7 linked regions of the Homo sapiens genome follow. The protein of the gene in region 2 interacts with the protein of the main gene of each other region in a pairwise test. Each region holds a gene or a part of one and is shown on either strand. Other genes may lie near its edges.

Region 1 (3,500 bases), on a different chromosome or scaffold from region 2:
TTGTGCCACTGCATTCCCGACTGGGCAACAGAGGGAGACTCTGTCTCAAAAAAAAAAAAAAAAAAAAAAAAGCAGCATCTTCCTAAGGGCTGTTAGCTGTATAATAGTGTCTTAAATATTTAGACTTTCAAGGCAACAGTCTTCCAATTTGTGACGTGAAAGTTCTTCAAGCGTTATGCAGGAATAGATAACCAATTTCTAGATTATCAACATTCATATACAATTCTTCCTAAAACAAATCTGATGAGAACTTGCCTACTGGTCTCCTTTTCTACTTCCCCTTTTCTAACAACGCTTCTCTAATCTCACAAAAGAAAGGTATACCTCTCACCCATCTCTAACATACCTTAGTGTATTGTCCTCACGTATAAAAACCTAGATGGCAGAATAGTGGTGTTTGTGCTGAGAAAGTGAATGGTCATAATAGTTTTGTTTGTTTGTTTTGAGACAGAGTCTCACTGTGTCATCCAATCTGGAGTGCAGTCTCAGCTCACTGCAACCTCCACCTCCTGGGTTCAAGTAATTCTCCCACCTCAGCCTCCCCAGTAGCTGAGACTTCAGATGCACACCACCACGCCTGGCTAATTTTTTGTATTTTTGGTAGAGATGGGATTTTGCCATGTTGCCCAGGGTGGTCTCAAACTCCTGAGCTCTAGCAATCCACCCACCTCAGCCTCCCAAAGTGCTGGGATTATAGGCATGAGCCACCATGCCCAGCTGGCCATAATTTTTTAGAGTAAAAAATTTTTTTTTTGAGACAGAGTCTTGCTCTGTCACCCAGGCTGGAGTGCAGTGGTGCGATCTCAGCTCACTTCGACCTCTGCTTCCCAGGTTCATGTGATTGTGCCTCAGCCTCCGGAGTAGCTGGGAGTATAGGTGCGTGCAACAACACCTGGCTAATTTTTTGTATTTTTAGTAGAGACTGGGTTTCACCATGTTAGCCAGGATGGTCTCGATCTCCTGACCTCATGATCTGCCCGCCTCGGCCTCCCAAAGTGCTGGGATTACAGGCGTGAGCCACCGCACCCAGCTGAGAGTAAATTCTTTTTTAAGGTTTTTCCCTCAACAAAATTGAAGATGACCTAATTGAATTGTCAATTAAAAAGCATATTTTAATGGAATATTATTATGTGACTTGTGGCATATAACAGATGGAATGCAGAGAATCGAGTGACATGGAAATAACAAAAGTCTTTCCATTCCAATCAATCTATTTAGGTTAGGGTTTCTCTAGGTTAAATATGTAACACTTAAGAATTAAGCCGGGCACGGTGGCTTACACCTGTAATCCCAGCACTTTGGGAGGCCGAGGCAGGCAGATCACGAGGTCAGGAGATGGAGATCTTCCTGGCTAACACAGTGAAACCCTGTCTCTACTAAAAAGATACAAAAAATCAGCCGGGCGTGGTGGTGGGCACCTGTAGTCCCAGCTATTCGGGAGGCTGAGCCAGGAGAATGGCGTGAACCCGGAAGGCGGAGCTTGCAAGGGAGCCGAGATCGCGCCACTGCACTCTAGCCCGGGTGACAGAGCGAGACTCCGTCTCAGAAAATAAAAATAAAAATAAAATAAGAACTAAGCCGGGCGCGGTGGCTCATGCCTGTAATCCCAGCACTTTGGGAGGCCAAGGCGGGTGGATCACCTGAGGTTGGGAGTTTGAGACTAACATGACCAACATGGAGAAACCCCGTCTCTACTAAAAATACAAAATTATCCAGACGTGGTGGCGCATGCCCATAATCCCAGCTGCTTGGGAGGCTGAGGCAGGAGAATCACTTGAACCCGGGAGGCGGAGGTTGTGGTGAGCCGAGACTGCACCATTGCACTTCAGCCTAGGCAACGAGAGCGAAACTCCATCTCAAAAAAAAAAAAAGAAATTAAAAATAAGAAATAATTCCCAAGGAGCCATCTCTATTGAAAAAATAAAATTTAAAAATAGGAATTTAATTGATGCCAAACCTGGTCACATTCTACCATGAAGAAATATTTATTTATAGATACATAAACTAGAAAAAAATCTGTCATTAAGAAATGCATTTCCGGACTGGGCACAGTGGTTCATGCCTGTAATTCCAGCACTATGGGAGGCCGAGGTGGGTGGATCACTCGAGGTCAGGAGTTCGAGACCATCCTGGCCAACATGGCAAAACCCTGTCTCTACTAAAAATACAAAAATTAGCTAGGTGCGGTGGTGCACCCTGTAATCGCAGCTACTTGGGAAGCTGAGGCAGGAGGATCACTTGAACCCAGGAGGCAGAAGTTGCAGGGAGCTGAAATCACACCACTGCACTCCAGCCTGGGTGATACAGTGAGACTGTATCTCGCCAAAAATATATATATATACACATTACCAATAAGTTTGTTTTAATGTAATAGTTATTAAAATTTATACTATCAGCCAAATGCTGTGGCTCATGCCTGTAATCCCAGCACTTTGGGAGGCCAAGACAAGAGGATCACTTGGGGCCAGAAGTCTAAGAACAGCCTAGGCAACATAGCAAGATGCTGGGTTTTTTGGGTTTTTTTTCAACTTTCAGTTATTTATTAATCAGTGTAATCTCCAGTAGATTACCTCAACATGATTTCATGCATTTAGAGGAGAAATATTTCCTGTTAAGTGGAAAATTGTGCGGATGGCTTCTGGAAGACCTTCATTCTAAAGGAGCTTTATAGTAAAACATTTCATTTAGAAATCTGAACCTTCTTTCTTCAATTTGCTGTAATCCACATTCACTGAGTAGAACTTGTATTGATCATTGGGACCCAGTTTGTTCAGGGCTCTGGGTTAGTCTTTCTGTCCCAACAAACATCTGGATTGAACAATGTCAGAGGCGAGAGAAACAGTGCTGCTCCAATACCTCCAGTTCCAATAAATACAAAAAGGGGGATCAACTTCGCATGCTTCTTGGCCTGACCCATGATCTGGCGGAGAATGTTTGCAGCAGAAGCCTCCAACTGGAAAGGAGACAACCAGCCTAGCCACCAGGCCCTGGGCTAAGTAGTATCTGCCAAGACCCTGTTTCTTAAAAAAAGGCCGGGCGTGGTGGCTCACACCTGTAATCCCAACACTTTGGGAGGCCGAAGTGGGTGGATCGCCTGAGGTCAAGAGTTCGAGACCAGCCTGACCAACATGGTGAAACGCCATCTCTACTAAAAGTACAAAAATTAGCCAGGCATGGTGGCGGGCACCTGTAATCCCAGCTACTCAGGAGGCTGAGACAGGAAAATTGCTTGAACCCAGGAGGCAGAGGTTGAAGTAAGCCAAGATCATGCAACAGCACTCCCACCTGGGCGACAGAACGAGCCTCCACCTCAAAAAAAAGAAAAAGTATCAGCTGTTAAAAATGTTCATATGTTCTTATGTGAATAATAGGTATTAAATTATTGTAGAACTTTTTATAATATGTATATAATATGCCCTTTGCAAATATTAAAACTTAGAATTGCAAGTATGAGTTTTCCAGAAATTATTTTATTAGGAATGTAAGCAAAAAAATGTTTG
Region 2 (3,500 bases):
TTCTAACAAATTCCCAGATGCTACTGCTGCTGCTTGTCCAAGGACCATCCTTTGAGAACCACTGCCTTACCTATCAGTGTGGACGAGCTCCTTCCTGAAGTCAGATGTGTGAGAGGAAAGATCAATACGTACAGAGAGAGAATTCAAATATTCAACTGATTCCACTGGAAATAGGAAGAGGAATCCTAAGATTTGACTTCAATATAAGCAGATTCCTGAGGTTTCTTTGGGATACATTCATGGCAGCCAGGCACTTAAGATGTCTCTTTTTCTGTGGTCTCTGTGTAGCTCCAACCCCAGCCCCTAGACAGAGCTCTCCATCCAAATCATCTGCATCCCATGCCAGTGATCCTACCACAGATGACATCTTTGAAGAGGGCTTTGAAAGTCCCAGCAAAAGCGAAGAGCAAGAAGCTGTAAGTGACCAGTTTGTTATTTGTTTGTGTTTTTCCTTAAAATTAAGACCTCTGTAACTGAAATGGATAATGCATGAGGAAGCCTACATAGAAAAGAATGCTGGCTCAATCTCATAAGTTCTCAAGGGGTTGCTAAAGGGGCTTTCTTTTGTGTTCAAATGAGTCAGCTGAAAAGGACTGCCTTTTTATTAAATTGTTACTACAAGTCCACATTTGTGGTGTAGCATCCTCTAAATGCCGTTGCACCCTCCTTTACAATAACTGATTGTGCTGCATGAAAGTATATCCAGGTGTCTTATATTTTCAATGCTTGAAAAGAGAGAAAAAAAAAAGTATTATCTTCTTGTGTTCTAGCCTGATGGATCACAGGCCTCATCCAACAGTGATCCATTTGGTGAGCCCAGTGGGGAGCCCAGTGGTGATAATATAAGTCCACAGGCCGGTAGCTAGATAGCGCAGGTCTGGGTAGGTATCTGTCCTTTTTATCTCCTTTACCCTTAAGCTATCTGCTTTCCCTTTTGGTTGTTCTTCACTTCTGAAGCCACATCCTCAATGTTTGCACCATGTCTCCTTGCCTGAGCTGTATTGCTGATGTTTGCACCATCGCTCCTTCCCTGAACTGTATTCCTGATGTTTGCACTATTTCTTCTTGCCTGAGCTATATCACCAGTGTCTGCACCATGTCCCTTTGCCTGGTGTCTACGTTCTACTTTGCCTTTTCTCATGGATGCATGACCTTTGACATATCCTGGGAGGTAGGGGTAGGGGTGAGAAGTGGGAACTGATCATATTATTTTATTAATAATATGTTCTGCGTGGTTGGTGGTGATAGAATGAGGCATGGTCCATGCTACTTAGCATGCATTTAGTTTCTGGAAGCATCAACATTTTGAGATGGACACATTCTGCCCACCCTGATAATTTCTCAGTGAGCCATGGTCCAGATGCTTTAATCTTTTAAGCAAAATGTCACTGCATTTGCCTACAGTCTGCAGATCTAAAGAGGTCACCAATCAAACACACAGAGAAGCCAGACTAAGAAGCAAAAACAAGCAGTGCTTGAAATAAGATTGATCGAGATGTAAGATCAGAGGAAGCCCTTTTCGTCTAGCCAGAAAGGACCCTGCACCCTGCATCCTTTCTGATGTGAAATTCAAAGCCCAGAGATGTGTAGCACTCACTTCTGAGGCTGTGCTGTTTGCACCTGTGCTGCAGCATGTGGATTGCCACCAAATCACTTCAGATTCCATCAGCAGCTACTTTGAGAGAGATGTACTTACATTTACTAGAAGTGGCTTTTGGCACTTGAATTTCAATACATCTGATTTGATCGAAAGAAAGAGGAGCTGATGAAGCAAACCTTCTTAGGAGACAGAAGTACACCTTGTTACCCAGACATGATTTCTAAGGTCACTTCTTGACAAACGTGTTCAATTTTCAGATACCTTCTTAGTTTTCTATAAACACACAGGACTGCAAGGCCATTCCCAAAAGGCTCCTTTTTTAAGTTCTGAACAGCATGGTCAAAACCATTAAAATGGTAAACAGTTTTCTCCACTCATAAATGGATTCGGAGGCTACCTCATAAATGGATTCTGAGGCTACCTCAGAATTAGTCTTAGCCCACACGTAAGTTAGACAGTTACTGAAAGCTAATATGGTATTTTGAAAGTGTATTTTGTTAACAGGTATTTTTATTAAAGAACCTAACACACTGTGTAGGTTGCCACATTTTGTATCAGTGCAATAGCACATAATAATATGTCATGCCATGCAAAACCACCTACGATTCACTTAGAAGTTCACTCTTGCAAAGCTACTTCGGGAGTTGATATATTGAAAGCAAAGTCAATGTTTCAGGAAAAAGAAAAGTTGGGGACTATAGGCAGACTCCTTGGGATGATTCCCCACGAGGTATTTTACCCCCCGCCTAAGTTGTATTTCACGTGCTCAACCTTGCCTTGAAAAATTTGGTGAATAAACTAGAGGTGACAAGAGCCATTCATCAGGATAACAGCAAACATCATCCTAAAATTGAAGTTCTTCTAGAAAACAAAGATGACTTACACCATTTGCAGATCAATGTATTAAACCCTCATCTTTATGAACCTGTTCAGCTTGAGACAATCCTACAAGCCAAACTGTTTCATGGGGCTTTGGTCTGTTCCACATTTAATGCTCTGTCCAGTACCCCAAGCCACAGCTGAGCTGTAAATGGACATAGCATAGTAGTGTGGGAAGAACTCAGGATTTGGACTTGAGTTTAAATCCTAACTCAGCTACTTAATAGTGGGAAATCTTGGGCAAGAACCAAAATTTGAGTCTTGGTTTCTTCATCTGCTAGAAGGGGCTTATATTCTCCATAATGGTAACTGAGATAGTTTATGTTGAGTATCTAGCGCAGAGACAGACACTGAGTAATCAGCTTAAAATTCAGCTTAAAAAAAATATCTAGGTTCTGGAACAACATTGTTTGAGTTCAGCATCTGGCTCCACCACTTCCTGGCTATGTGACACTGCTGTGATTTTATAATTATTCTCTATCTTATTTTCTTCATTTGAAAAATAAGGATAAAAATAGTGTCCACCTCATAGGGTTATTATGTGAACTAAATAAAGTGATATATGTGAAGCTCTTAGCACTGTGTATAGCACATAGAAAGCACCTAATAGATGCTAGCTACCCTCATCATCACCATCACCATCATCATTATCATCATCATTATCATCATCACATATATCCAATTAATGCACGCTCCCCACTCTCTTGGATTTTATACATTTAGCTTTCATGTATAAGACCATTGGTTGGGAGGTTTTGCTTTGTACTTTGTCTTCAGATAATTAATTTTCAATATGTGTCACAACAGCTTTGGAAGGGAAAAAAAGAAAAAAGCCTGCTGCTTAGCTCTCTGGCTTGCCCCACCCCATAATCAGAATGGCCCTGGTTTGGGCCTCACACAGCTCACTGCCAAAAAATGGGCTGTCTTAGAATCACATGCAAGTCAAAATAAGTACCTCCCAGCTCCAGAGGAGGGCTGGACTGTAATCTTCGGTGAAGTAATTTTCTCCCTTTGAAAGCTT
Region 3 (3,972 bases), on a different chromosome or scaffold from region 2:
ATTTCCCTTCTTTTCTCTCCTTTCTGCTCCCCTTGTACTGTCTACTCCTTAACTTGGTCAAATTCTACTTGATCCAGAACATAATGGGATGGTGAGTGCAGACGACACACACGGCCTCAGTCTATGGGAACATCTCAAAGGAGTTCGTCTGCAAATTCTAGTGCATCTAGGCAGAACACAGGAAGGAAGAGAGGTGCAGACTCACGTATGGCCTGGGGCACCTGCCATCCCCTCGAGCCTGTATGGTCCTTACCCGCCCATCCCCAGCTTGAGTTCTGGGCCTTCTCGCCAGCACATCGTTGGGACCTGGTCAACTTCAGGTAAGTTTATTTCATGGCTCCCTCTCCCCTCTGCAGCCTATCCTGTTATTCTCTGTTTCAGCCAATTATTTCCCCTAACTAGGTGCTGAAGCCAATTAAAGGCAGTTCATGCCATATGTTCCTTCCCACTCCCATGTCACTTGAAATGTTCTATTATGTCCAAGACTTCTCTCCCCATCCTAAAGCTCACAAAATAAGGATGGAGAAGAGAAGAAAGAGAGATTCACTGAGGGGGAGGATCAGAAGCTCCTGGGCACCCCATACTCTAGAATAAAAATCTTCATTATAGTGTTTTTCATGCAAAATATTCCCTTCTACATAATTATGTTTTAACATGAAGAATAGAAATTTAAAGAGGAGAAATACTTCTTGAAGATTCTGAGAATCTTCATATAGCTCAGGCTGCCACGAATTAGCTGTGTGACCTGGGGCATGTCCCTCAGACTCTGAGCCTCAGCTTCTCTATATGTAAAATGGGTTGAAGCCGCCCTTCCCCACAAGCACCCTGTGCACAGGCAATGCCCAGCCCCATTATTTTCTGGAACCAGTGGCCAAGCATGCTTAGGACACCCAGCCACATACTTCTGGGCAGTGTCATCTGGCAACTCACTGTCATGTCAGTGTGGTCAAGCATTGTAGACCTCTATGAACCAAATATGCTTCAGGCTGGGGTTGAGCACAGGAGAGGGAGGAGGGAAAGGTCACTGGGGCTGGGAGTGCCTACTTCCCTCTATGAGTGTCACCCCAGTTCACCCAACACCCTACCTTTCTCTCTCTGGACCCACTTCCTCTTGCTGCCGGCTCCTCCCCATTGAATAACAGCCAAGTTGCTTTGGTTTCTATTACTTTGTTAAGTCATTCCTTCTGCAAAGGACTGCCTGGCAGGTGTGAAAGGCAGCGGTGGCCACAGAGGCGGTGGAGATGGCCTTCAGCGGTTCCCAGGCTCCCTATCTGAGCCCAGTGAGTTCCAGGGCCGTGGGCACAGGGCTGCCTCAGCCAGGGGGACACAGTTATGGGGCTCTGAGGAAGCAACTCCTGGGTGGCAGGAGACAGGGGTGGGGGCATCCCAAAGAGAACACAAGCAGGGCAGAAATGTCAGTGGGGGTCGTCCTGGCACAGCTGTGCCATGCTGAGCTCACTCATGCCTGGAGGGATGCTCCTCCCATGAATCATGGGTTTGACAGTGTTGGCTGAGCTGTCGTGTCCTGTCCTGTGCGCTCAGGGGAAGAGGTGTAGAGTGGGATGGTTTGTGTAAAGAGGAAGCAAGCATGCTTCTGGGACAGTAAGGATGCTACCCGGCATGGTAGTTAAGGGTGCGTACTGTGGAGTTGGCCTCCCTGGGTCCAGCTATTTACTGGCTGGTGGTCTCTGGGCCTCAGTTTCCATATCTGTGAAGTGGGAATAATACTTGAGCCCCCCACTCCCAGGGTTGGGATATGGATTAAGGAAGTAGTGTATCTAGAGTGTTTGAACAGTGCCTGACACACTGTAGGTGCTTTGGGAGTGTTTCATGTTATTGGGAGTCTGGGGGCAGCAGGGAAGGCCTCCCGAGGAGGTGTCTGTGCTCTGAAGGGTGAGGCGGAGTTAACCAGGCATAGGCATGTCAGGGCATCTGTAGACGGACAGTCTCAGAGGTGACGGAGGCAGGGACTGTCCCTGCAGTGTGGGGTCAGAGGGCTGCAGGTGCCTTGCTGAAACTCTGTGAGGTTTATGAGTCCCCTTCATTCACGGAAAATCCAAGGTTCAGGGAGGCAAAGGCCAGTTGCCAAATGCCCCCAGATGGGAGTGGCAGCCCCAGGAGCCCAGGAGCCTTCAGGGGTGACTGTGTCCTGGGCTGGGTCCTGTCACAGGATCTCACCCTGCCTTGGCAAAGAGCTTCCCGAGGGGCTGGAGTGGGTGGGCTGATGGGCCCTTCCTGAGTGGGGAGACAGAATGGGGAGGGTGGGCAGAGGCAGGGTGCTGAGGGCAGGGAAGCTGCCAGGGGCCACCTCAGCAGAGGCCAGGGTCGGGCTTGGGTGCCCTCTGGTGATACTGAGTCCAGAATGAGGCTGCCTATGTTCTGGTCTGCAGAGCTCAGCTCTGCTTTCTAGACTCCAGAGAGGAAGAATGGAGAAAGGAGGCCTGTTTCCTCCTGGCTGTCACCAATGACCCCTCAGCCACCCTATGGAAGCCCCCAAGGTAGAACCTGCATAGAGGGAGTGGGGGAAGCTGGAACGGGCTGCCGGTGTTGGGCGAGCCTTAGAGTCAGCGTATGCCACCTTGAGCATGTCACCCCGTTTCTGGTTTTCTGCCAGAGAGGGGATCCCAGAGCTTCTTCCAGGTTCTGACATATTATTATTCTGGTAACTGGTTTTTACTTTCTAATCTTTGGATTCAGAAGGAAAATCCTCCTATGCACATCAGAGAGTTTGAGAGAGTTAAAGCGGGGCCTTGGAGCTCAGACAAGAAAGACGATCAGTGCAGCCCCCACAGGTGTCCAGAGCTCCCCTCTACCCTACGGGGGCTCCCCTGGGTTGGGACACTTGAGCCTCACTCGGTGACCCATCTGGCAGTCGGAGCCACGCTTTCTCCACATGCCGACAGTGGGGGAAGGTCACGCGGTTCACTGTCCTGCTGAGGAGGGCTGAGTGCCATGAGGGCCTGGCTTGGAAACCTCACTCCCACTTCTTGTCTGGCCTCATCTAGCCCAGCCTCTTTGGAGGGCTGGGGGGAAGCTGGAACCACCTGCTGTGTGGCCCAGGAAGCACTGCGAGAGCCAGGAATAAGGACGTTCCGAGCTTCCTCATGAGAGGAAGCCTGTGTGGTGGTTAGAAGCGTGGGTGCTGGGGTTCAAATCCCAGCTCTGTTGCCGACCAGCTGTGTAGCTTTGGGCAAGTGACTGAACTTTTCTGTGCCTCAGTTTCCTCATCTGTAAAAGTGGCCGGGGTTGCTGTGAGGATAAATGTTCCCGGTCACCCCCAGAGCCCTCATGGACACACATGGATCCAAATGCCACAGCAGCCTTAGCTGGCCAACTTAAAACAACACATTTGTGCTTACAGTGTTGGAGGTCAGAAGGCTAAAATCAAAGTGTCATGAAAGGTGGCCAGCAGGACCGTGGAGCCTCTGAGGCAACAGGGCACTTTGGCTAAGGGCCACGTACTGGCTCCAGCTGGCAGGCAGTCTCGGCCAGCCAGGCTGAGCTCCCTACTCCTGGGGCCAGGCCTTGGTGTCCTCTGGTGATGCTGAGTCCAGAATGAGGCTGCCCACATTCTGGTCCGCAGGGCTCAGCTCTGCTTTGACTTCCAGGTAGGAAGAAGAGGGAAAGTCCCCGGTCTCTGGGCACAACCAGGAACAGAGAGCAAGTTCTGACTCAGCAGAGGGATTGATTTGTTCCATGCAAAGAGCTGCACTGTCAAGGCCGACATGGGCCAGAGGCTCAGCACATGGCATCGCACCCCGTCCTCTCAGAACGCTGCCAGCCAGGGACTCAGCACATGGCATTCCACCCAGTCCTCTCCAGAATGCTGCCAGCCAGGGACTCAGCACACAGCATTGCACCCAGTCCTCTCCAGAACACTGTCGGGTGGTGTTACTGCCCTGCCATTCAGAGGAGGGAAGTGGGGCACAGGCAGGTCAAGTGACTTGGCCAGTGTCAGAATTGCTAGTGTAC
Region 4 (3,500 bases), on a different chromosome or scaffold from region 2:
TCATTAGTCATTGTTGGACACTTTGGCCATGCTTAATATAATTCAGTACTGAATATGTATTTCAATGTGAGAGTTTTTGACATCAACATTTTTAACTTTTGTCTAATTTATAATCTTAGAGTTAATGGAAATCAGTGCCTCTATAACTATGGTTTTAACCAGCTAATAAGTTGTCTTCATGATCTTTAGCTTCTAAACAATGAATAGTAGATACCATTTTTTGTTAAGATCTGTGTCTGAATTGAAAGGGATCAAAGTGTATGGTGAATAAAGCAGTAGAATGCAAATCAGAAGATATAATATTTAACATGATTAGCTAGTGTTAACTCTTGCTGTCCATCAGTTACATAATTAAAATTTTTATTCAGCACTTGATTAACATAAATGTTTCTCAATTTTCTATCTTTGTTCTACAGAATGGTAGATAACGCAGATCATCTCTGGAAAGGATATTGATCCGCCTCATGTAAAGTATGCTTAGTTCCTTTCCAGTGGTGTAAGTATCAAGTCCTTTTTGATTTTTATCTTCACAATCATTTTAGTAAAGTTAAGATGTCACTATGATTATGATCCAGATTTGACAACAGACGTTTGTAGAGTTGAAAAGCTTTTTTAGAAAATGAATCAAATGTTATACCTATTTGACATTAAGGTGAATAAGTGTCATGATCATGTGGTGAGAAATGAATTTTTAAATCTATCAGCCTTCTCTTACCATTTCTGTTTTCAACTTTGAATTTTAACATTAATTTTAAATTGAATATAAAATTAATTATTATTTTTAACTGCTTAAAGCTTAGAAGCATCCAAGATAGATGACTAACAGTTCAAGAGAGCTAATATTAGATTCCTTGTGACAAGCAGACTACTGGAAGCATACATCTTCATGTTGCCTTTTGTGTAAAAACTCCTAGCACCTTAACCATTTTCCTTTACCTGCTGGGGGCATGATGATGTAGTTAAGCCTATTAGCTGATGTGCTAGCCTTTCTTTGGAGTCAGGCAGAAAATACAAATTGAGATAGTGGTATTGTGTTGAGAGTGTTTTTGTGCTAGGATATGAACTATAACCACCAGTTCATATTAAATAGGCCTTTGAATAAAAGTATTCCGGGAATTTCAGATATTAGAGAAGACAGAGTATCTATTAGCTCATTAAGTGCATCTTTAGAGTCGAATGCAGAGTGCCTTTAGCATAAGTATTTTCTAAAATTTGATGGAGTCTCCACTTTGCTTAAATTCCTTCCGTTTTGGTTGACAGTTCTATAATACAGTAAGTAAACATTAAGAGAGATTTTCCTTATTATTTAGGCTTTTCATTATAGTTCCCCCACCCCCACCCCAGTAGATTCTATGATATAGTGAAAAGTTTCTGGAACAGACCTAGAAGATGTGAACTGTAGCCCGACTTTCTGCTAAGTAGCTATATCCTTGGGAAGGCACTTCACCTCTTTGGGCCTTAGTTTCCCTCCCCACTTTTTAAAAAAATTTATTTGCTAATGGCTATTTTCAATCTATCAGCCTTCTCTGTTACCATTTCTATTTTCAACTTTGAATTTTGACATTAATTTTAAATTGAATATAAAATTACTTATTATTTTTAACTGCTCAAAGCCTAGAAGTTTCTGAGATAGATGGCTAAGCATTCAGGAGAGTTAAGACGTCTAATGGCTATTGAAAATAGTAAGATGTCTAATAGTTACTGAAATGAATGTAAGCATCATGAAGCCATGAATTTTTGCCTGATTTGTTCCTTGTTGTGTCCTCTGTGCCTTGCACAGGATCTGTTACATAGTAGGCATTCAATAAATGTTACTTAAATGAATGATTTTTGTCTAAGTGATCTCCAGTTTTCTCATTCCACACCTAACTTATATCTCCCTTTATAAATGTGCATGTTTGTACTTGGATTTTTGTCACATATGGTAGAAATAAGATGATCAAAGTATGATTTCATGAATCACAGTGTTTATTGCCATACAAAGAGAATTTTTTCTTGGGTTCACAGTACTTAAAGATGGGGAGAGTAACATAGACAGACTTCACAGGGAATACACTCAATAGATGAGGTACATTAACCACATTATGAATGTGTTCCAAAGCTATTAAAGTGTCTTTGCTCAATTATGATGAAAGGAGGCCTCTGTGTTCAAGTGAAGGCTAAAGGTGGAGGTGTACCTTTACATGAGCAGTTCTTGGGAGAGGCTGGCTTGACCACCATAGCTGAGATCTGAGACCACAAGGAAGGCCCCTCAGTGCTAGAAAATGCTGGCCTGCAAGGTATAAAAGCTTTGAGGCCTGTTGCAGCCTGAGCTCTCTGGTTTTGGAGAAGCTGCTGACAGAGAGTAGCCCTGCCACAGCCTAAGCTCCCAAAGTGTCTGTTAAGCTCTTGAGTGTATATGTATTTTGAAGTCCAGTAGTTGTGACAGTAACTCACATATGCAGTTTGACATGAGGTGACATTCCTGAGAGGATGGAGAGTTCTCTCTCTGATAAAAATATTGTGATTGACCCTAGAGTGTGTTAAATTAGCATGCAGTAAATATCATGTATGCAAAACAAAACTAACCTATTTTGCCTAGTCATTCTAGATAATAAAAATAAAGACAGCAGAATTGAGCTGAAGAAAAAGCTGTTATCCAATAAAATTTTACTGTTGGTGCTTTACAAGTAAGATAGTAATGTCCTTTTTACCTCTGTGATTTCAAGATTAATTATTTGTGAATGCTTTAATCTTCTTTGCTCTACATGTTTGTAGAATTTAGCTTATGAAAGTATATTCTAGACCTCATGCCTTATCCAAGAAGGGTTTAGGTACATATTCAAGTCAGGATAAAATGTATTGTGAAAAGTTATTATTATGGTCTTATGGTATGATATTTTCTTAGAATATCAGTTTATGAACTGAGCCATAATTCCTGAATTTAATTGTTCTTTTATGCCTTAAACACTGTCTGTTATTACAGTGGTGAAATTCTTCTCACATCATTTTCAATTATTGTTGGCCTGAGTCTGCATTCAGATTAGTAATTTAAAGTGAAAGATGTTCCTTATCCTCTGAACAATCCTTGTGCATAAGAAAATTAATTCAATTCTTACATGTTATCTTTTTCTGTTATAAAAGAATTGCTGGTATCATGGACTTAGATGACCTTTGTAGGTCATTTACTGCCATAAATTCGTGATTATATGCTTAAACTAGGTAAATTATGAGAAATAAAATTGTGAAATGCCGGAGTATATGCCTTTGTTTATATTAATACACATTGGAACATTATTCTCAATATCCAGGAGAGCTTCTAGACTCAGCGTTTTCTCAGTAAAATATTGTATCTTCAGTGTCACATGCATGCTTTGATCCTGTTTGTTATGCTCTTAATCACTTTGCTTTGTAGTGATCATATGAATGATCATTCTAGCAATTGTGGATCATTTTGCTTTAGGTTATATTTGCATTAGGAAACTCTCAGTGCAGGGCACAGACATCTAATTTGAACAAGG
Region 5 (3,500 bases), on a different chromosome or scaffold from region 2:
TCTTCTCTGCAGTCCCCCAAAATTATAGTTATCCAGTCTTGTATTTAACAAGGTTTGAGATTGCTTTAGCTAAGAACTTCTGTAAAAAGGCTATTTAATGTCACAGTTTGTTCTAACAACTAAACTCCCTTCTGCATTCTGATACACACATGAACCATTTTCAAACCATGGTCTTCCCAAGATAAGGCTTTCCACGTTTAATATGATGAAAGGGCAAGTGGTTATTCTCTCTTTGAAAGTACTCATAAGAATTCTGATGGATAAAACAAAATAATTTCCTCTAACACCAGGCAGACTAACCATACAAAGGCATGTTGCTGACTTCCTTCTGCATCAGTTGGTTGAGACCCGTAGTGTTGCTCTCCATAAGTAATCCTGTATCAGAAAATAGCATATCCCAGAAACAAAGTGTATTTTAGATGTCTGCTTATCAACTCTGGTTGAATGATTTTAAGAACCTAGTTTAAGTTTCCGTAGGGGTAATATGATTACTCAGGATGCATTCGTCTGCAGTATACTTCATGTTATGTAGGTTTTCCCACCTTTTCCAACATTTCTCCAAAAGTTATCCTTCTCCCAGTTTAACTGCTAAAATGCCATTGGTAGGGTCTTTGCACTTCAAGCCATCTTGAGGAAAAGCTTCCTTCTGAGAGTTAGATCATTTGGCAAGGGTCAAGAACAGAAAGCTGTGTTTTTAATCTAAAGGCTAAGGTCAGATTTATTCTTAGATTTCTCTTCAGATTCATCTGTACTTCAATATCTAGTTTCCATAGCAACTGAGATGCAGTTTGCAGGTGGGTAAGAAAAGAGAAATCTTTAGGTGTAAAGAAACTTATTTTTTAACCTAGAGAGAGAAGGTATCAGGCAACACCTTCATAGTTTTTATAGGCTAAAGCCTATATTCTTTTTTCAGGACTTCAATGTTTCACTGATAGGTGTCATTTCCTTTTTCCTGAAGAGGCCATTCAACTCTTCTTGACACAGTCGCAGAAAAGATTGCTGCTTCTGTGTTCTGTTTAATCACAGTCAAACTAATTAACTAACCAATTTAACAAGACAGCTAAAAGAACTTATGTGGAGAAATTATAGTTACTAGTAGAATTATTTCTTTTCAAATGGAATGTCTCTGCCTGATAATAGCCTTTTTTACAGGAAGTAGGTAGTCTCTTGTTCAAGTGTGACTGAAAGAATGTAGAATAGTACTTATGTCTGTGTTCTTAGTCTAACTGAATTTGGGGTGTATACTTGAGACCTGTTGAGTCACTTAGGTGGAGAAATGTTGGAGGGAGAGAAGTGCTATCACAAGTCTGCAACCACTAAAATGATAACATTAAAGAGATGCTCTAAGCACTTAAAGCATTTTCAGAGATGTGTAGCACTTAAAATGGAAAATTTATTTTTTTTAAGTTGTTGAAGCTGGAGGAAGTTTAATGTTTTGTTTTGTTTTAAATTATAGGAACTGCCTTCTGTTGAAGAACTCACTATTATTCTGCCTGAAGATATTGAGTTAAAGCCTCTTGGGATGGTTTCAAGTATTATTGAACAACTAGGTATGTTAAGAATTCTATTAATAAAAATTGTTTCCAAACACACACTAATAATTGAATCAATGACTTTTATGACTAGTAAATTTTCTTTGACATACGTAATTAACACTTTATTTTATAGTCATTAAGTTTGAAGGGATAAAATTCAGTTTTCATATACTAAAATTATATATAAATACAGTTTATTTATAGAAATTTAAATGTCTGCTTTTACTGACATACTTCCTCCGGAATTTCCTTTGATTTGGTTTATTAGTTTTCTAATGTTGCTATACCAAATTACTGCAAACTTAGTGACTTACAGCAGCACAATTTTATCATACAGTTCTCATGTGGGTCTCAGTGGGCTTAAAATCAAAGGTGTTAACAGGGCTGAGTTATTTTCTGTAGGTACTAGGGGAGAATCTTACTTCCTTGCTCTTTTTGGGTTCTAGAGCCTGCCCACATTCCTTGACTTTTGGCTCTCTTTCTTCATCCTGAAGGCCAGTAATGTAACGTCTGTCTCTGAGCCTTCTTCCATTATCTCACCTCACTCTAACCACATGTGGAAAGGTTCTCTGCTTTTAAAGACTTTTTAGATTGAGTTTACCTGCATAATCCAGGATAATCTCCCCTATCTCGTGGTCCTTAACTTTAATCACATCTGCAAAGGCTCTTAAAAATGTAATGTATTTACAGATTCAGGTATTTAGAGTGTGGATATCTCTTGGGGAGCCATTCTGCTCACCACCTTTGATTTTGTCTTAAAAACATGTGAGAAAGTTTTGTAATTTAATACTGTTATTAATGGCATGAAATATGAAGTTGCTGAGTTATAAGAGAACTTAATATTTTAGACTTCTTTAGCCCCAACATGTGAGTTTGTTCTGTGAGATTCTTGTTAATATAGGTACTATTAACTCGTAGTAGGATATGCTGGAGAATAGAACTCAGCACTGACAAAGTAATAGGATTTTGGAACTGTGAAGAGGACCTAGATTGCCCACCAGCCTCCACAGGACCTGAGGAAACAGAAAAATTCAAGTCAGTTGCTCTTAGGACCAGTTGTATAGTGAGTCAGTGGTAGAAATAGGACCTTTTTCTTTTGACTTTTTTCTAACAGTGTCTATATTGATATTTTTAAAAATTAACACTTACATAATTTTGTACTTTTTCAGTTTATTAATAAAAATGTAGATTAAAATGAACCTTCTTTTCAAAAATAATAATTAAAATTCTTTCCGTGATTCTGGAATCATTACATTTACTAGTTTTAGAGTTATGGTATTTAATAATATATATAGATAAATCAAACAGGCAACTAATTTCTTGATTATGTGGTATGATTTAAACATTTATTAGACTTGATGTATACAGAAAAATTTTAGGTCATAATGTTGATCCTCAAAAAAATAAATGTAAACTCTGACGTACATGGAATAATGCATGTCATTTTTGCATTTTTAACAATACTATTTTGACTAACATAGACTGAAAAAATTCTCAACCTAATGGGAATAAAGAGTAAATGGGTCAAAATCAGCACATGCTACTGTTGCAGATTTTTAATAGAGATTTTTAATAGAGACAAGGTCTTGCTACGTTGCCCAGGCTGGTCTCAAACTCCTGGGCTCAAGCCGTCCTTCCTCGCCAGCCTCCCAGAGTGCTGCAGGCGTGAGCCACCGTGCCCAGCCTGAAGTATCCACTGTTAAAATTAATTGAGATACAAAAGAAATTGTTTGAATTAATTTTGATAATCTGAGGTAATATATTTTATTCCCTTAGTTGACATGGTATTATCTATGTAATGTAACAGTGTTCTTACTTGTGGCTCTGATGTTCTAAAAACTTATTGAGAGTGTGTTTGTGTGTGCGTGTGTTTTCTCTTTGTTATGGTAGATCAGTTCTTTAATATTTGTGTCATTTAAAAGAACTGGAGATTTGGAGATTATGTTTTTGCTTTTTGAGGAGGGA
Region 6 (3,040 bases), on a different chromosome or scaffold from region 2:
TAACAGAATCTCCTAGATCAAGACCAACTCCCACTGGTATCAGTGCTTGCTTTAAACTACCTAAAAAAAAAAAAAAAAAAAAAAAAATCTATGGCAGATCCTTAGGGAACCTAGTAAGAGTGGGTCTTCTAATGCAGACCTTGTATCTTATGACCTATTTATAAAACAATTCTTAAAAAAAATACAGGATATGGTTTTTGAAACATATATAATTAGAAATTAGTTATCTCAAAGGAACTAAAAAATATATAGTTTTGAAATACTATATAATTAGAAATTACTATCCCAGGATGATAGCCAGAGCTTTCATATTTTAAATTAGAACCAACTTTTTAAGGTATTATAAAGCTCATTTAAAATGTACTTTAATTCAAGAAAAAAAATCAGGTATAAATTAGTAAGTTTAATTTGTAACTACTTTTTAACCTATTTTTCAGGTTTAAATTTGCCCAAACCAACTGAAAAATTTATTAATACTATAGTAGGCTAATTATCTTTTATATCCAGACATTAGGCCAAAAATGATACAATTCTGGTTAATCCATAATATATGCATATATAGGAAAATGCAATAGTAATTTGTTTTCCATACTTGATGATTAAAATAGCTTCAAATATTTTATGAAAGCTTAGTCAAAATAAATATTTAATAAAAAGATATACCATAACAAAATATCAAGAAGTTAGTGTTTGAAAATAAACTGTCACGTTGTTTTGCTTTCAGTCAAACAGAACTGAATTCAGTGGCTTAAGGTATCTAAGAATAATTCAATTGTGACTTTGGAAACAAAAAAATTAAAATCCAGGTTAAGACTACAGAGCTAACACAAAGATGAAAGAGAAGTTTACTACGTTATAACTCAAAAGTTTAGAGTTATTGGGACTTCTCAATGACTACGATCTAAGAAACATGAATAATTTGGGGAGTAAAAGTAAAAAAAAAAAATCATGATTATGTGATTCATGTTGTGACACTCTCAATAAGTAAAACTAAACAACAAAAAATACAGTATATATGAGCACCATTAAAAATGTGTGTATGTAGCTATACATGTGTCAAACTTTACCTGATTAAAAATTACATTTAAAGTTAAAAACAAGTATACAATTATGAAAATACATTCTCAAGCTAACATGTCATGACTTATTTTAAAATGTTTCATCAAGCATTCCTTCTAAAACTCAACTAAGGAATACAACATAAAAAAAGCCAGCATTCTTTTGTAGTGTAAATCCCTTGATTAAACAGAATTACTTAAGTGTTTTCAATTCATAGTTAGATTCTAAGAGGTGCAAGAAAAATGAAGTAGGCAAATAAATGGGAATTAACAGAATAAACCAGCACATGTTGGATTTGTCCTCAAGGGATTATCATTCAGGCCTCAAAATTATTTTTAATTGAGAGCAGTAAAGATTACATTGCCAGAAACACCTTCTTTCTATAATAAAAGTTGTAAATTTGTCACTTCCGCTGTAATATTTCTGCTATATTCACCCACACTCTGAAAACAGCGATACATAATATACATCCTGGGATAATACAGGTCTTTAATGAAAATCTTATTTTGATCCTACTTCAAGGCAGCTCATGATTGACCATTAGGAACCCTTGAACTTTTTTTCAAAGCTCCCAGTAAAAGCAATCACATGATACGGATTGATGTTCTTTGATACCATTGTCACGATAAATATTAATGTTATTCACCATTTAAAATACGTTCAATCTCTTCTAGTCTTTTTAAAGCAGCAACTCTTTTCTTCTCAATTTCTTTGATGTCTTTTGTTGTTTTGTGGGGTGTCTCTTCGTCTCCATTTTTTCCTAATTGTTTGTTGGATTTAGACTGACTTTTATTATCACTTGTTTTTACTATTTGTGTTTGTCTGGATTCACCTCTAATTTCTTTTACACTTTCAGTTGGAATTTTCTTTCCTTCCACACTTGAAATCTTACTGGTTGGGAATATTGGCTCTATAAAACTAGATGAGGAAATCTTATCCCTGACTATATTCAAATGGCGCTGAATATATTCTTCATGTGGTGCTAATGCCAGTGTTTCAAGAAGGCATCTTTCAGCTTTTAATAAGTCTTTTTCTTCAAAATAAACAACACAAAGATTGTGTTTTCCTTGCACATTGCTTGGATCCATCTCCAAAATCCTTTCAAAACATTTTTTTGCTCCTAGTATATCTTTCTTTTGATTCATCAGAATGTCTCCTTTTAAAATGAGGCCCTTGATATGATCAGGGTAGTATCTGAGTAACTCCTCCAAAATTGGCAAAGCCTTTAATTCCTTTGCAGTCTGGGAATACAGGAGAGCCAGATTAAACAAAGCACTTCGGAAGTCGGCTTGTAACTTTATGGCTTTCTTCATCCAAATCTCTGCTTCATTGTCCTTTTTGTCATCCATGGCAAGCATTCCCAAATTGAAATACCCATTAGCATCTAGTGGCTCTTCATTTATATAACTTAGAAGTCGTTTTCTAGCTTCAGGTCTGAGTTTAACCTCACCTAGAAAGTTTTTTTAAAGAAAAAATATATTGTTAATAAAATAATTAAATGTGAGGAACAAAGCCATTTTCAAATACTTAGATTACAAAAAGACAGCTTCAAAACAACTAATTTCCATAGTTAAAAAAAGTAGAAAGCAAAAATCTCGAAGTCTTCATAGGAAAAGCAAAATATTTGAAACAGTAAAAAGATAGCTTATTTCTTTTCCTTTAAAGCAGTAACAGTGCTTCAGAAACCAAAAGGAGAGAAATGTCTCTTATAATTTAGAATTCAATTGGAAATAGAAGGAAAATAGAGAATTCAGAAAAAGAAGCATGGGATTTGCCAACAAAGACATGTATTCAATCTTGATTCTGATAACATTATGACTTTATACACTGAACATGTTACTTAACTTCTCTGGGTTAACTGAGTTTTCTAATAATTGTATGTTGTATATCGAAAAAATGTTCAGCAAATAGTAACTATTACTGGGTAGAAAAAAGCTTCAGAATGACTGTATCACATTTTAAAAAATGTTACTTCAAAGTT
Region 7 (3,500 bases), on a different chromosome or scaffold from region 2:
TCTTTCTGAGCCTCATTGCCTCACCAGGGACACAGGAGCTGAGGCTGCTTCCCTCTTTGGAAAGCACTGAAGCCCAGGACTCGGCCCACAATAGGCCTTCAACAAATACCACTTCTCAGCTTACGGGTGAAATATGGCACCGGAAGTAATGCTCTTGGCTGTGGGAGCTACAGACAGCAATGAGGTCTCTATCAAACCCAGCCTCCTCTCTCTCGAGAGGAACCAGTGGGGATACCCTACCCCTCAACCCCAAAGCCTTGTGCACCTGAGGGTAAAAATCTGGGTGCCACGGGCTCAGGAAGGCTTGCTTGGGAGCAAGAGGGAGGTGGGTGTGTCTGGGGAGGCATTTCTGAGCACAAGAGCCTCCCTGGAGTTCTGCCATCGTCTCTCCCCGTTCTGTGGTGCCCGCAATAACCACCGTTCTGACTCTCCTCACCCCTCCAGCCTCCCAGCGTGCGGCCTGCCAACCCAGCTCCCATTGTAAGTCTCTTGCTTTCTTTTTGGATCCTCTTGATTTTGGCTCTTCTTCTGGGCTAATGGAGGATGCAGGGCCAGGCATTGGGCCTCTCCCATCGGGAGTGGGGAGGGCAGAGGCCAGGCCCTTGACCATCTACCCGGCCTGGCGAGGTTGGTGGGTGAATGTGGTTGGCTGGCCGTGATGGAACAACCTGAGTTGCCACTCCATGGGCAGCCACGGAAGACCATGCCCCACGTTCACTTCTCTCACCTGCAAAGGGAGGCTAGGCTGAGAGACGTTTCCCCGAGAGGAAAGATGGGCCAGAGCCACCAGCGTCCCCATCTGTCTTCTCCAGGGTCCTAACCTTTGCCTCTCCCTCGTCCCCTGGACCCACCCTCCGTGGGGTCTGTGGGGCCACTGGGCTGGTTATGCCCCTGGAGGGTGCCTGCCGTGTGGCACCCTCTGGTGGGAGCTGGGGTGGTCTTTACTCAGGAGAGCCTGGGTGAGACCTGGTTTCTTTCTTCCAGACCCAGACAGTCATCCACACGGTGCAGAGTGCCTCTGGACAGATGTTCTCTGTAAGTCTTCAAGTTCTGATCAGTTCACAGCTGCACAGTGCCCTCCTTCCCCAAGAACTAAACTCCCTAGAGCCCTAGAGTTGGGAAGAAAGCGGTTTAGCAAGGAGGGTGGGGACATCTGGGGCTGAGTCCTTGGCTCAGGTGACATGTGGTTAAAACTATCCTTGGGACAGCAGAGATTCTGGATTTATCCAGTGGTGGAAGAGGCAGGTTCCCTAGAGACTGGGAGGGAAACTGGTCCTTCTGTCACCAAGTGGGGAGTGCAGTGGCCCCAGCACCCGGATGTGAGGTTCCTGGCCCTGCCTCCTGGGTCCCCGGGATGTCACTACAGATCACAGGCTTAAGCTCTTCTCCTGCTGGTGCAAATCAGGCCGGGAACTTAGCATTAGTGGGGCTGCCTGCGGAGGGGCTGAGGGGCAGGTGACCATGGTGGGGTCTGGGAACACGGCAGGAAGTTCCAGGAAGGCTAACATGAAAACGGAGGTTTACGGGAGAGTCCAAGGGCCAAAGGCTCATGAGGTCAGCCTCACAGTGGAGCCCCCTCTAGAATGCGTGGGTGCGCGTGGGTGAGTGCTCGCGCACACATGCGCTCTCCCATTGAATTTCCTGGTTTCTTTTCAGCAGACTCCCGCCATCCCACCTATGATGTACCCCCACCCTGCCTATGTAAGTGGTTTCTCAGGGAGGGCAGAGGTTCTGTTTGTGGTGGGCAGGCTAGGGATGAAGGGCCGCTACGGGGGGATCCGCTGGCCTTGAAAAATGAAAAGCGAAGGGCTTTCAAAATGGTAAGCTGAAGGGCTTCAAAGCGTCCCAGTGAATTAGAAGACTGTGGAGAGGAGCTTTCAACCTTAAAACTGTCGTGTCAACGTGAGCACATTGCATGGCCCTCCCTTTTCACCCCACGAGTCTTTCTTTCTGTGTTTGGCCAAATTTCCTTTCATGACACTAATCTAAGCCCATTAATTTGAGGAGCACCGGAAAGTTTTCCTTTGGCTTTTATGGAACCAAGGAAAGATATCGTGGGCTTCTTCTCAGCTGACAGCCTAAATTCATGGGAACTGGTACAATCTTCCCCTTCCATGTGGCGGCTGCCCTGACTGCCACTGGCTGACCTGTCCCCGTCCTTCTGACAGCCGATGCCTTTCATCACCACCATTCCGGGAGGGCTGTACCCATCCAAGTCCATCATCCTGTCAGGCACTGTCCTGCCCAGTGCTCAGAGGTAAGCCAAAGGCTCCAGTGACCTCTGGGAAGAGAGAGCCCTTCAAGGTCATTCCAGCCATTCCCCTGGCTTTTGGCAGGCTGGGGATGATGGGGAGGAAATGGGGCTCAGAACTCAGTGGACAAAGGTCCAGGTAGGCTGCCCACCCCAGGTTCCACATCAACCTGTGCTCTGGGAGCCACATCGCCTTCCACATGAACCCCCGTTTTGATGAGAATGCTGTGGTCCGTAACACCCAGATCAACAACTCTTGGGGGTCTGAGGAGCGAAGTCTGCCCCGAAAAATGCCCTTCGTCCGAGGCCAGAGCTTCTCGGTAAGGCGCCGCAGCCTGGAGCTTGAGGAGGCTCCTATGGGTACACGGGGAGGGGGTAAAGGAGGTCTGGGGTACCTTGAACAGGATGGGAGCTGATGCCTCTGGGATGAGGGCCCAGAAGAAAAGGTGGCCAAAAAATTATTGTCATTATTATTAATAATTATTACTGTCCTGCATGAAGGAAGCGTTGGGATCTGCTTTTTTAGATGAGGAAAGAAACTCACAAGTGCAGGTTACTTGCTTGCGGTCACACAGTCAGTAAGTGTCAAATCAGACCCAAGAAGGAGGTGTTATTCATTTCTTCACTGACTCATTCAACGATTTCACTGTCGCCCGCTTTGTGCAGGAAGCACTCCACATGCTGGGAGCGCAGTCATGAAGCAGACACGTAGGGTCCTTCCTCCAGAGAGTTTACAATTTAGCTGGGGGAAGGAACAAGGAAACTAAAGCATGAACAGATTGTTGCAGATAACAACAGTGCCACGCAGAAAGCAAAACAGAGCGATGAGATAGAGCGAGCCTGGGAGGGGCAGCTAGGGCCAACATGCAGAGGTGTGGGTGTGGCCTCTCCAGGAACAGCAGCAGGCGTGCTCCGCCCTGACTACACATTCAAATCACCCAGAGAGCTTACAAAGAACATATAGGTGCTGGGACCCCAGCCCAGGCCAATGAGGCGGTCAGCCTGGGCATTTGTATTTTTAAAATATGCCTGAAGTGATTACACTCTGCAATCAGAGTTGAAAATGACTGATGTAGGGCTTTGCAGCCATGGAGCCAGGGAGCAACATTCTTTGATTTGTGGACAGCTGTGTGACCTCGGGCAAGTGACTTAGCTACTCTGTGCTTCAGTTTCCTCATCTACAAAATGGAGCTAATAATCATATGAATCTCCTAGAGCTGTAAGAATGGAATGAGGCAGTATCTGTAGC

The links.
Region 1: the proteins of DAB1 (region 2) and ZCCHC10 interact in binary tests that used the Homo sapiens proteins (3 or more experiments, as listed by UniProt).
Region 3: the proteins of DAB1 (region 2) and LGALS9B interact in binary tests that used the Homo sapiens proteins (3 or more experiments, as listed by UniProt).
Region 4: the proteins of DAB1 (region 2) and HMBOX1 interact in binary tests that used the Homo sapiens proteins (3 or more experiments, as listed by UniProt).
Region 5: the proteins of DAB1 (region 2) and NAF1 interact in binary tests that used the Homo sapiens proteins (3 or more experiments, as listed by UniProt).
Region 6: the proteins of DAB1 (region 2) and TMTC3 interact in binary tests that used the Homo sapiens proteins (3 or more experiments, as listed by UniProt).
Region 7: the proteins of DAB1 (region 2) and LGALS9C interact in binary tests that used the Homo sapiens proteins (3 or more experiments, as listed by UniProt).

The regions. Positions count from the first base shown.
Region 1 is NC_000005.10:133,002,550-133,006,049, reverse strand, and holds part of ZCCHC10 (zinc finger CCHC domain-containing protein 10), read left to right. Parts: intron 1-2,684; exon of another isoform or gene 2,685-2,953; intron 2,954-3,500.
Region 2 is NC_000001.11:57,008,061-57,011,560, reverse strand, and holds part of DAB1 (disabled homolog 1), read left to right. Parts: exon of another isoform or gene 1-288; coding exon 289-416; exon of another isoform or gene 417-770; coding exon 771-866; 3' UTR 867-881; exon of another isoform or gene 882-3,500. UniProt on the Homo sapiens protein: Signaling adapter of the reelin-mediated signaling pathway, which regulates the migration and differentiation of postmitotic neurons during brain development.
Region 3 is NC_000017.11:20,464,740-20,468,711, reverse strand, and holds the start of LGALS9B (galectin-9B), read left to right. Parts: upstream 1-1,172; 5' UTR 1,173-1,241; coding exon 1,242-1,280; intron 1,281-3,972.
Region 4 is NC_000008.11:28,963,395-28,966,894, forward strand, and holds part of HMBOX1 (homeobox-containing protein 1), read left to right. Parts: intron 1-416; 5' UTR 417-473; coding exon 474-496; intron 497-3,500. UniProt on the Homo sapiens protein: Binds directly to 5'-TTAGGG-3' repeats in telomeric DNA. Associates with the telomerase complex at sites of active telomere processing and positively regulates telomere elongation.
Region 5 is NC_000004.12:163,146,391-163,149,890, reverse strand, and holds part of NAF1 (H/ACA ribonucleoprotein complex non-core subunit NAF1), read left to right. Parts: intron 1-1,456; coding exon 1,457-1,550; intron 1,551-3,500. UniProt on the Homo sapiens protein: RNA-binding protein required for the maturation of box H/ACA snoRNPs complex and ribosome biogenesis.
Region 6 is NC_000012.12:88,194,307-88,197,346, reverse strand, and holds part of TMTC3 (protein O-mannosyl-transferase TMTC3), read right to left. Parts: intron 2,510-3,040; coding exon 1,698-2,509; 3' UTR 1-1,697. UniProt on the Homo sapiens protein: Transfers mannosyl residues to the hydroxyl group of serine or threonine residues.
Region 7 is NC_000017.11:18,490,289-18,493,788, forward strand, and holds part of LGALS9C (galectin-9C), read left to right. Parts: intron 1-444; coding exon 445-480; intron 481-984; coding exon 985-1,035; intron 1,036-1,656; coding exon 1,657-1,701; intron 1,702-2,168; coding exon 2,169-2,257; intron 2,258-2,408; coding exon 2,409-2,571; intron 2,572-3,500. UniProt on the Homo sapiens protein: Binds galactosides.